Homo sapiens: one gene and its partner. The protein of the gene in region 1 interacts with the protein of each later gene in a pairwise test. Each region holds a gene or a part of one and is shown on either strand. Other genes may lie near its edges.

Evidence for each region.
Region 2: the proteins of USP5 (region 1) and ENTREP1 interact in a two-hybrid assay, tested with the Homo sapiens proteins (one large-scale study listed by IntAct).

What each region holds. Positions count from the first base shown.
Region 1 is NC_000012.12:6,861,148-6,865,330, reverse strand, and holds part of USP5 (ubiquitin carboxyl-terminal hydrolase 5), read right to left. Parts: intron 3,889-4,183; coding exon 3,714-3,888; intron 2,862-3,713; coding exon 2,773-2,861; intron 2,187-2,772; exon of another isoform or gene 2,146-2,186; coding exon 1,954-2,145; intron 1,502-1,953; coding exon 1,358-1,501; intron 1,282-1,357; coding exon 1,136-1,281; intron 610-1,135; coding exon 456-609; intron 168-455; coding exon 83-167; intron 1-82. UniProt on the Homo sapiens protein: Deubiquitinating enzyme that participates in a wide range of cellular processes by specifically cleaving isopeptide bonds between ubiquitin and substrate proteins or ubiquitin itself.
Region 2 is NC_000009.12:69,373,035-69,378,226, reverse strand, and holds part of ENTREP1 (endosomal transmembrane epsin interactor 1), read right to left. Parts: intron 2,492-5,192; coding exon 2,363-2,491; intron 858-2,362; coding exon 750-857; intron 617-749; coding exon 483-616; intron 1-482. UniProt on the Homo sapiens protein: Functions as an activator of the E3 ubiquitin protein ligase ITCH in the ubiquitination of the CXCL12-activated CXCR4 receptor. Thereby, triggers CXCR4 endocytosis and desensitization, negatively regulating the CXCL12/CXCR4 signaling pathway.

The DNA of each region.
Region 1 (4,183 bases):
ATAGCTATCCCAAGGACTTCCAAATGGCCCTCCTCATTCCCACCACCATTCTCCATTCAAAACGCATGTGGCCAGCACTCACCTGCCTTCTTTCTTGATGTGGCAGACGTAGTGACCACACATGGTAGAGGTGCCCATGTGACTAATGAAGGCAAAGAGCTGATACTCTAGGAAAGGAGAGAGGGGGTCAGAGAAGGAAACAGAAGAGGAATGCTTGAGTGATGGCCCAAAGATCCAGACAACAGCTCAGACTCAGGACAGGAGTTTCAGGGAATGTGAGGCAGGTACTGGGCCAGAGCCTGTCTCCATGTCAGAGAACCCCACCCTCAGATGCCACGTTGAGGTGGAAAGAAGCCCCTGACTCCTGAGGAGGGCAGAGCTGCCTGAATGAGGGATCTGGTGTAGTAGACTGACCAGATTCCACCAGGCCTGTCCTGCTTCCTGGGGATACTCACTTCCAGGACCATCCCGGACTTTAGGTCCCACTGGCACAGACTCAGAGATGGAGTCGGCAGCTGAGCGGCCCTCTGAGATGTCCATGGCAGCTTCAGCATCCAGGTCGTCAATGTGACTGAAGATCCAGTCCACAGCCCGTTCTAAACTATTGTTCTTGGAGAGGAAGGAAGCATTACTTTTTTTCTTGAGACGGAGTCTTGCTCTGTCGCCCAGGCTGGAGTGCAGTGGCGCGATCTCGGCTCACTGCAAGCTCCGCCTCCCGGGTTCACGCCTTTCTCCTGCCTCAGCCTCCCAAGTAGCTGGGACTACAGACGCCCACCACCACGCTTGGTTAATTTTTTGTATTTTTCGTAGAGACGGGGTTTCACCGTGTTAGCCAGGATGGTCTTGATCTGCTGACCGCGTGATCCGCCCACCTCACCCTCCCAAAGTGCTGGGATTACAGGCGTGAGCCACCGCGCCCGGCCAAACAGAAGCATTACATTTTTAACAAGTTCTGGGGCAAAAAACCCAGCAGTGAACGCAGGCTTCAGCTCCTTCATCGCAGCCACAAAAGAGTGGTGCCCAACCTCGGCCAGACCACACCTGTTGTCTTTGGTCTTGCTCAAGAAGGATGGCCCCTCATTCCCACCCCCTTCTTCCCCACTGGCCCCATGTCCTTAGCTGGGGCAGCCCATACCGTGGCCCGCAGCGCTTTCAAGGCCTGGTCCCGGGAGAAGCCCATGGAGACAATGGTGGTCACACAGTCCTCAGGAGGGGGGTCGGCTGCTGCGCTTGTGGAGCCCGGCCCACTAGAGCCAGGCAGGATGAGGGGGTTTGCAAAATCTGTGGATGTGAAGGGGTTGATGTGTTTGGGGGAGGATGGAGGCCCTGCCCCACCCTGCTCCCCACCCCAGCCTACCTGGATCATCCATGTGTGACATGACCCAGTTCATGGCGGCCTCAGCCCCGCTGTTGCCCGTGTAGTAGACAGCTTTGCGGCAGGCGTCCATAGGGAATCCCATCTCCACCAGCTGGATGATGACTGATTCATCCAGCATGGGCGCTGTAATGGGAATTGTGGGTACACGGACCGACTGATTGGGCCACTGTTTGCTCCTCCTCCCTCCCCCAGGACCCAGCCCTCTTCCAATCACCCATTCCATGCATTTTTCTCCCATGGATTGGCACCTTATCCCAAAACCAAAATGACCACACAATTGTAATGTGGGTCCCTGCCCATTCTCACAGAATGGGCCCTGTTTCTGGAGCATGATACCCCCACCCTACCCAAACCAGGGAGGTAACAAGGGCAGAGAGGCCACTAGCTGGCACTGCTGCCATCCACACCCAGAAGGTGGCTAGGAGTGCGCTGGGGAGGCCCCATGTCAATCAAAGAGGGCAGAGGAAATTTGAAAGGGAGGACAGGAGAAACACAAAGGACAGGGGCAGGGGATGCAAGGCAGAGAGGCCCCCATCAGCACGGGAGAGAGACAGGCAGGAAGAAGAGTCACTAACATGTCGGAGAGGAGAAGTGAGGGGAGCAGAAGGAGTCTTCGTCTTCGTTGCCATAGAAACCAAGGCTACCTTTGGGCTCATCCGGAGTGACCAGGGGTGGGGCAATGTCTGGCAGCTCCTCCTCTCCGGGCTGCAGCCCTGTGCCCCTCAACTGGGAGATGTCGAGCTCCTCTGGCATCTCGATGGACACATCTGTGGGAAAAGGGTCACCTCAGCAGCTCCCGGAGGCCTACCTGGAAAGTGATTCGGGAACCTCAATCCCCTGCCCCCTATGTCAGAACTGCTCTGTAAAGAGGAGCTGCTAAAAGCACGGCACCCATCTTAGGGGTCCCAGTATAAGACAAATAATACTAAGCCTGGGAGTTGGGAGGCCAGGATGCTGGTCCTAGATCTACCATAAATAATCTATGGACAGGGCAGGGGGCCTAGAACTTGTGAGACAGAATGATTTTATATTCCTGTGAGTCTCAACTTCCTTATCTAGAAAATGAAGGTACATCACGAGTTCTCAAATGACAGTCAGGGACCTGTAAGACTCACGAGAATTAATTGTTTCAAGATTATCAAAATGAAAACATTTTACCAATTATTTTAAAAAACTACAAAAATCACTTTTGGTTGTAAATCATACCTATAACAATCAAAGAAGTCTTTTAATATTTTTAGTTAGTGCTTTCAAACTAGATAAATTTTGAAACATTGAAGGTGATTTTTTTTCCTCTTTCAGAGGAAACTTTGAGAAACACTAGTTTATATGTGTTAAAGCCCCTTCTTTTTCTAGCATTTTCTGTGTAACCTCCCTCATTCCAGCAGCCATACCCAGTTTCTTGGGCACCCAGTCTAAGCCGAAGGTGAACTTCTTGATCTGGATGACCAGGTAGTCAGGGAATGAGGCAAATCGTGTGGTCCTAGGGAAGAGAGACTGTGCTGGTACCCAGACAATCCCCAGGGTTTTCCTCTCCTGAAACTCCCACCTGGGGTTCAGCCCCTCATGGGTAGAAGTCCCAATAACCCAGAAGATCCTCCATATTCTTCTCTTCCCCTGGGCAGGTGTCTGATGCCTGTCCTCGGCCAACGAGGAGCAGTAGAGGCCAGAAGGAAGGCTGTCAACAAAAAAAAGAAAAAGAAAAAAGCCCAGGCATGGTGGCTCATATCTGTAATTCCAGCACTTTGGGAGGCCAAGGCAGGACGACTGCTTGAGCCCAGGAGTTAAGAGACCAACCTGGGCAACATAGCAAGACCCACACGTAGGGAAAAAAACATAGCAAGACCCACACATAGAAAAAAAAAAAAAACCCACACAGAGAGGAAGAGCTGTTTCACTGGCAGGAGCAGCAAAGGGCTGGGTAGCTGACTCCCCGAGACCAAAGCCCTTTTTCAGGTCTCACACCCATGCCAGGTGCCAATGGCTAGGCTCAAAGTGTGGCTATTTGCTGGAAATCCAAATTCTGCCCACAGCTGATCCTAAGTGCCTGTGCTCAGCCATGACTGAGGGGCAATGAAGAGAGGCTACACTACAAAGAGACCCTGTGCCACAGAAGAGGGAGTGGTTGGGGCAGGACAAGGTGACAGATAGAGTCAGTACCCGTGTCCCCCCTACCAGGGCCCCTTGGTTCCATCAGGGCCAGATTACCAGCCCAACTGATTCAACCCTGAGGTTCCAACCACAAAGGGATGAAAGAACAGGGAAGAGACAGAAGTATCCTCTGGGATAGCTCTGCCATAGACCCACAGCCTCAGGCCCCGACCAGAGGACTTACTTGACAGCTACTGACTTGGCCTGCAGGGCCGTGCTCCAGAAGTCATCGACCTGCTCAGGGGCCCCGTAGGCCTCCAGGCAAGAGCTGAAGGGCACCTGGGCCCGAACCAGTTCTGGCAGTGCCATCTTCTCCTCTTCGGCTTGCCGCTTCTTCTCCTCGTACTCCAGAAGCTCCTCTGGTGACAGAATGGGTTGGTGGATCCTTCGGAGGGTGCTGCTTCTTTGCCTCCTTAGCCTCTCCCTACTGGCTCTGTGTCCGTATTTCAGTTCCTCTACCCTTCCAAAGCACCCCTGACACATGTCCAATATATCTCGCCTGTTTCCATGCAGCTCTGCTAACAAGCTGAGTGTCCACTGGACGAGGTTAATCTACCTACTCCTGGTGGCCCAGACTGGAACCTTGGCTGGTGAAGCAGGGCATTCCCTGGGCTGTGCTCCCATGAGGTGCCCAAGCATTCCTCCTAGACCTTA
Region 2 (5,192 bases), on another chromosome or scaffold:
ACATCGATTTGGCCTAACTGGGAGTGTTTCCAAGGCAACAGCGACTCTCAATCATGTCAAATTACAGCTGTTATCTCCCTGGGTGTCAGTTTCCCTTAGAAAGCTAATTGAAATTGAAAATGTCTATCTTCAGGCCAAAGTTTAACTTTTCTTTGGATTCATCTGTTTTATCAGACAAAAAGAGAAAGTAAGACAGAAAACAGAGAGAGAGAGACAGAGAGAATAGAAACCCCTGAAAAACAGCATAATTGTTTTTCATTTTTCTAAAGAAGGCTGGCAGAGGTGGACTCTCTAAAAGCCATACCACAGGGTTCACTAGCTGATTTTGTCACTCATTGGGCTAACGTTCCTCAAGTCAGGAAAAATTTTTCTTTTTCTTTTTCAAAGAAAAGTGAGATCTCATGTGGTGAGTTCTGGAGACACTTCAGTCTTCAGAACCCACAGCATCCCACTCAGACTGCAGGGGAACTCAGGAACGATACCTGCGGTTCATCCGGGGTGTGCACGAGTAAAACGTGGCAAAATAGGAAGGGGGAGGCACAGGCGGCACAAAATCATCAGGGTCGGGGATGCGTCCATGATCCTCCGCTTCTTCAGCAGAAATCTGGGATTCATCCTGATTAAACAGCAGCTCAGTTAGTCAACAGCCTTCATTACAAAGGCACGGGGAGAGAGGCAGTGGATGACACGAAGGGGTCCATGGGCTGGCTCAGCGGAAACGTGGCCATGATGCCCTTGCATAGACTTACGATGCAGGATCTCCTGGTTGCGAATATCTGGAGGTAGCGGAGGGCAGCGGCCACCAAGCAGACGGTGGTGGTCAGGGCATTCAAGGCACACAGGGCAAAGAGGACTTTCTGGGGCAAGGAAACAATGGCACCACTAAGTACTTCAACAAACATCACCAGAATACAATGTAGAAAATCTTTAAAATAATAATAACGCTGCCTCCATAAGACAATTCTCAGGAGAGGATGCATGTAAAGGACTTAGATGGTGTTTGGCTCGTGGAAAGTGCCCAAATAAATGCTGGCTATTATTATGACCCTCATGCAATAATGTGTACTTCTTAATTCCAAAAACTTATCTTAGAAGCTTTCTGTCACAGAACAACGTGGTATGATAGTATTTCTTTTTGCAAGCATCAGAATACTGTCGAGAAACATTCCTTCCAGGAGAGCAGTGAGCTTCTCTTCTGAGGCTGATTTCCCCAGGGATAGCAATTCCCAGCCTCCTCCCTCCCACAGCCTCCCACCAGCACAGCACACTGCTTAATTTGTGGCCACTAATTCTATTTCAAGAGCAATTGGCTGTGCTGCCCCATGCACACGACGAGGACACTGAAGGAGCTGGCCCAGCCAGAGTGTAAATAGGACTTCTCTCCACTAAACACACATCTCAAAATAGCAAAGGCCATTCCAAACGCTTCTGTTGGTACAGTCCTGGCTCCTTGAGTGGGGCTTTCCCCAAGCTAAGTCCTGGCTCAGAAAGTTTGGGGGTGACTCAGCTACCAAAAATGCAGAAGCCATGGAAAGCAGGCCATTTCCACATCCCACACAACCCAGAGCTGGTAGCTTGGAACAGTTCTCTCTTTCCTTGGAGATTCTTCCTCCCCACCAAAATGAAACCCAAAACAAATATCTAAAGAAAACCGGCAGAAGTGGACTCTCAAAAAGCCATACCTCAGGGTTCACCAGTTGATTTTGTCACTCACTGAGCTAATGTTCCTTAAGTCAGGGCACAATTTTTATCCAATTCCCTGATGAAGGCTAATTTTGTATTTCTCTTCAACTGGGATCATCTGTTTGTTTAATACCTTTGGCTTATTATAGTTGTTGCTTATTAAACAAGAGCTAAGGTGCTTCAATTCCCCCATATTTTCTGGCCAATCTCTCTCCTTAGTCTACGTGTTGCAGACTGGTAGTACTCAGTGGCCCATATGACCCATGTAAGCAAACAAATGAGCATCAGAACAATGACACACGAGTGTGCGACTTAAAGGTTTTGCTAAAAGCTACACCGTATATGTGTGTGTAGGTATACATATGTACGTATGCATATGTTTATATGTGGAAATATGTGTGTATGTGTATACATATACATATATATAGTCAGGCTCCTTTCCATTTTTTACTATCTTACAGTTCTTCAACACAAAGAAAGCTGTCCATACATAATTTAACACACACAATAATCTGTGGTTCTTTCTGCATTCAATTCTGTCTCTGGGGTCACTCACATGCGCTTTCAGCAGCTTAATTGTTTGAGGGAGGTAATAGAACAGGAATATTTCAAGTAAGTTTGCCTTCTTTGGGGGCTCCGTGGTGTATTTACCGTGCGGGTGGGAATCTGTTTGAGGTACCTTAAGTAGAAGGTGAACAGCACTACAGGGCTGAACCGGAAAGAGTTTCAAGGCATTTTCTTTGTCTGTGCACTTGGCTGGTTGAAATTCTTCACAACAGAAGCAAATCTTGCCTTCACCTAAGTCCACCTTAACGGAGGAAAGGTAAAAAAAAATACTTTAATTATTAAGAAAAAATACCCTGGCTCTACCATGGAGCACCAATCCTGTAGAATGAGATGATGGCAGGGTTCTGTGTCAGGCAATGCCTCTATCAGTCAGGATGGGCTAGGGTATAGCATGGTAACAACCAAAACCTAAATTTCAGTGGCTTTCACAAAACAAAGGGAATTTTAATATTCCTCCTTTCTCCTTTAAAGTCTCCAGCTGAGAACTTCCTGTTTTCATACTAATCCTGTTTAGTACTAACAAACAAGCAGCTAAATGAGATGAAGTATCAGCCTCCATTCTGCTCGTGTACATGAGTCCCACTCTTCCCCAAAAGGAACCAAACTCACTTTTTTTTCCCCAACACAATGCACTCTGATTTTCATTTTTTGCACTTGGTGCAAGCCTCAAGATCTTAACCTGAAAGCTCTATCTCTCTCAGACAATACTAGGCATCATCTTACAAAATATTCCCTTCCCAAACAAGTCCATTCTTGATACAAAGCGTTTAGTTAAGTGGGAAACCAGGCCTATGTGGGCTGCACACACCATATAACATAGATGTCCAGCTCTTCAGAAACTTCAGCTACCTGGCACCTCTGGAGTGAGCCAGTCTGGATGGCAAAATTTTCCAGATGGGTGAAATTCAGTCCCTTTAAACAACCCTATTTGAAAGTTTACTCATTATACAAATGATCACGAATACCAATTAATTTTCCCACTGGATACAAAGAAACCTCAGGCACTGTGCAAAATGATTCCAGGCAACTGTGCACTGTGCGTTCCTTCTCCCCTATTCCTGATCCTTGCAGAATCTAATACCTTCACCTCCATTCTTAATCCCATCTCTGCCCAATATTTCTAAAAACTTATTCTCACTTCTCATCAGTCACTTTAGCCTATCCACAAACAAATTTGTAGAAGTCTCCCTGATCCTAAATAATGAACATCCACCCTGCATTCTTGGTGCTACTGCCTGAAGAGGTCAGATCTTTGTCTTCCCCCTGTCACCTTTCAATAGCAGCATTCTTAATCCTGCCTGTACATTTGAATTTTCTGGAGAGCTTTTTAAAAAATGATGATGCCATCTTAAGCACTCAGGGAACTACAAATTAGAGTGACAGCAAGCTCTCACTCTGGCTTCATCAGACTGGCACAACTTTAAAAAGAGAGAAACTCTCTTTGCTGGTGGAGACGTGGAGAGCCACTGGTAGAAATTCACCAGTCACTGGTGAGTTTAAGCCCTTTAATGAAGGAACTGACTATCCATTTTAAATTAAAAATACTCACTTCCCCAACCACTTTGGAAAACTCTTTAGCACCGCATCATCCAGCAGCTCCGTGCCTAGGTATTCACTCAAGAGAAATGAAAACTGCCTCCCCAAAACAATAATGCTCACAGCAGCTTTGTTCATAATACCCCCAAACTGGAAACAACCTAACTGTCCATCAACAAGAGAACAAAAAAACAAAAAAATTCTGGTATTTTTATAAAATGAAATAGTGTCCTGAAAAAAGGAACAAACAACAGATACAATATAAAAATATGGATGAATTTCAACAACATTACACTGGGCAAAATAAGTCAGACACAAAAACTTTCAAACCGTGTGACTCCATCTACATGAAGTTCAAGGACATGCAAAACTAACCCATGGTGAAAGAAACAGGAACAGTGGTTGCCTATGAGAGAGTAGAGACTGCCTGAAAAGAGACACTAAAGAACTTTTTAGGGTGACAGAAATATTGTTTGGAGTACAACAAACAATATTTTGTTTGGAGTATAGAAATTGTTTGGAGTATAACATGAGTGTATACATTTGTCAAAATGAATGTATACATTGGTCAAAACTTATAATGAACTGCACACTTAAGATTTGTGTTTTTCACTGTAACTTCTACCCCAATTTAAAAGCGATGGATAGAACAATAAAATGGTTGAATTTGTAATAATAAATGAGATAAGCAGGAGAAAAGATACTGCTGAGAACAATTCCTTGTCCTGGGAACCTACTCCGCTTAGGACTAAAATCTCCCTGAGGATATACAGAATGATATTAATGGCAGCACTGTGTCTACTGGTCAAAACCCAAGCCACAACAGGCAATAACAAAATAAGGAACTAACTTGGTAAAAGAAATTAAGGGTGTTAGTCTGTATTTAATCTATCTCTAAGTGATACATCTTTAAGTGATAAAAACAGGATGCAGGGAAGTACATACAATATACCTCATTTAAAAAAAAATCATGAACGACCCCACTCCATACATATTTATGTAAGATTACATGACCATGAAAACATTATGAAATATAATTCCCCAGCCTGTTACTAAGGATTTGGGGTGACAGGTATGGGCAGAGTGGGAAAGAGAAGAGAAGAGCAACCCCTTGCCCAAAAAGGTTTCATTTGTCAGTAATTTCCCCAAAGGAAAACAACACTTACAACATGATCCTGTTGATTATGTCTGTTTTTGTGCATAAAGAGATGCTTAACACATGGCCAAATTGTTATCCAGGGATAGTGGGAATTCAAATGATATTTAAGTTCTGCCTTATACTTTTCATGGCTTGCCCAAACTTTTATAATTATAACATCAGAAATAATCACAGTGTTGGTTTTGTGGTATATATATTCTGATATACAGAATATATAAAGAACTTCTATAACTCAATAACAAAAAAA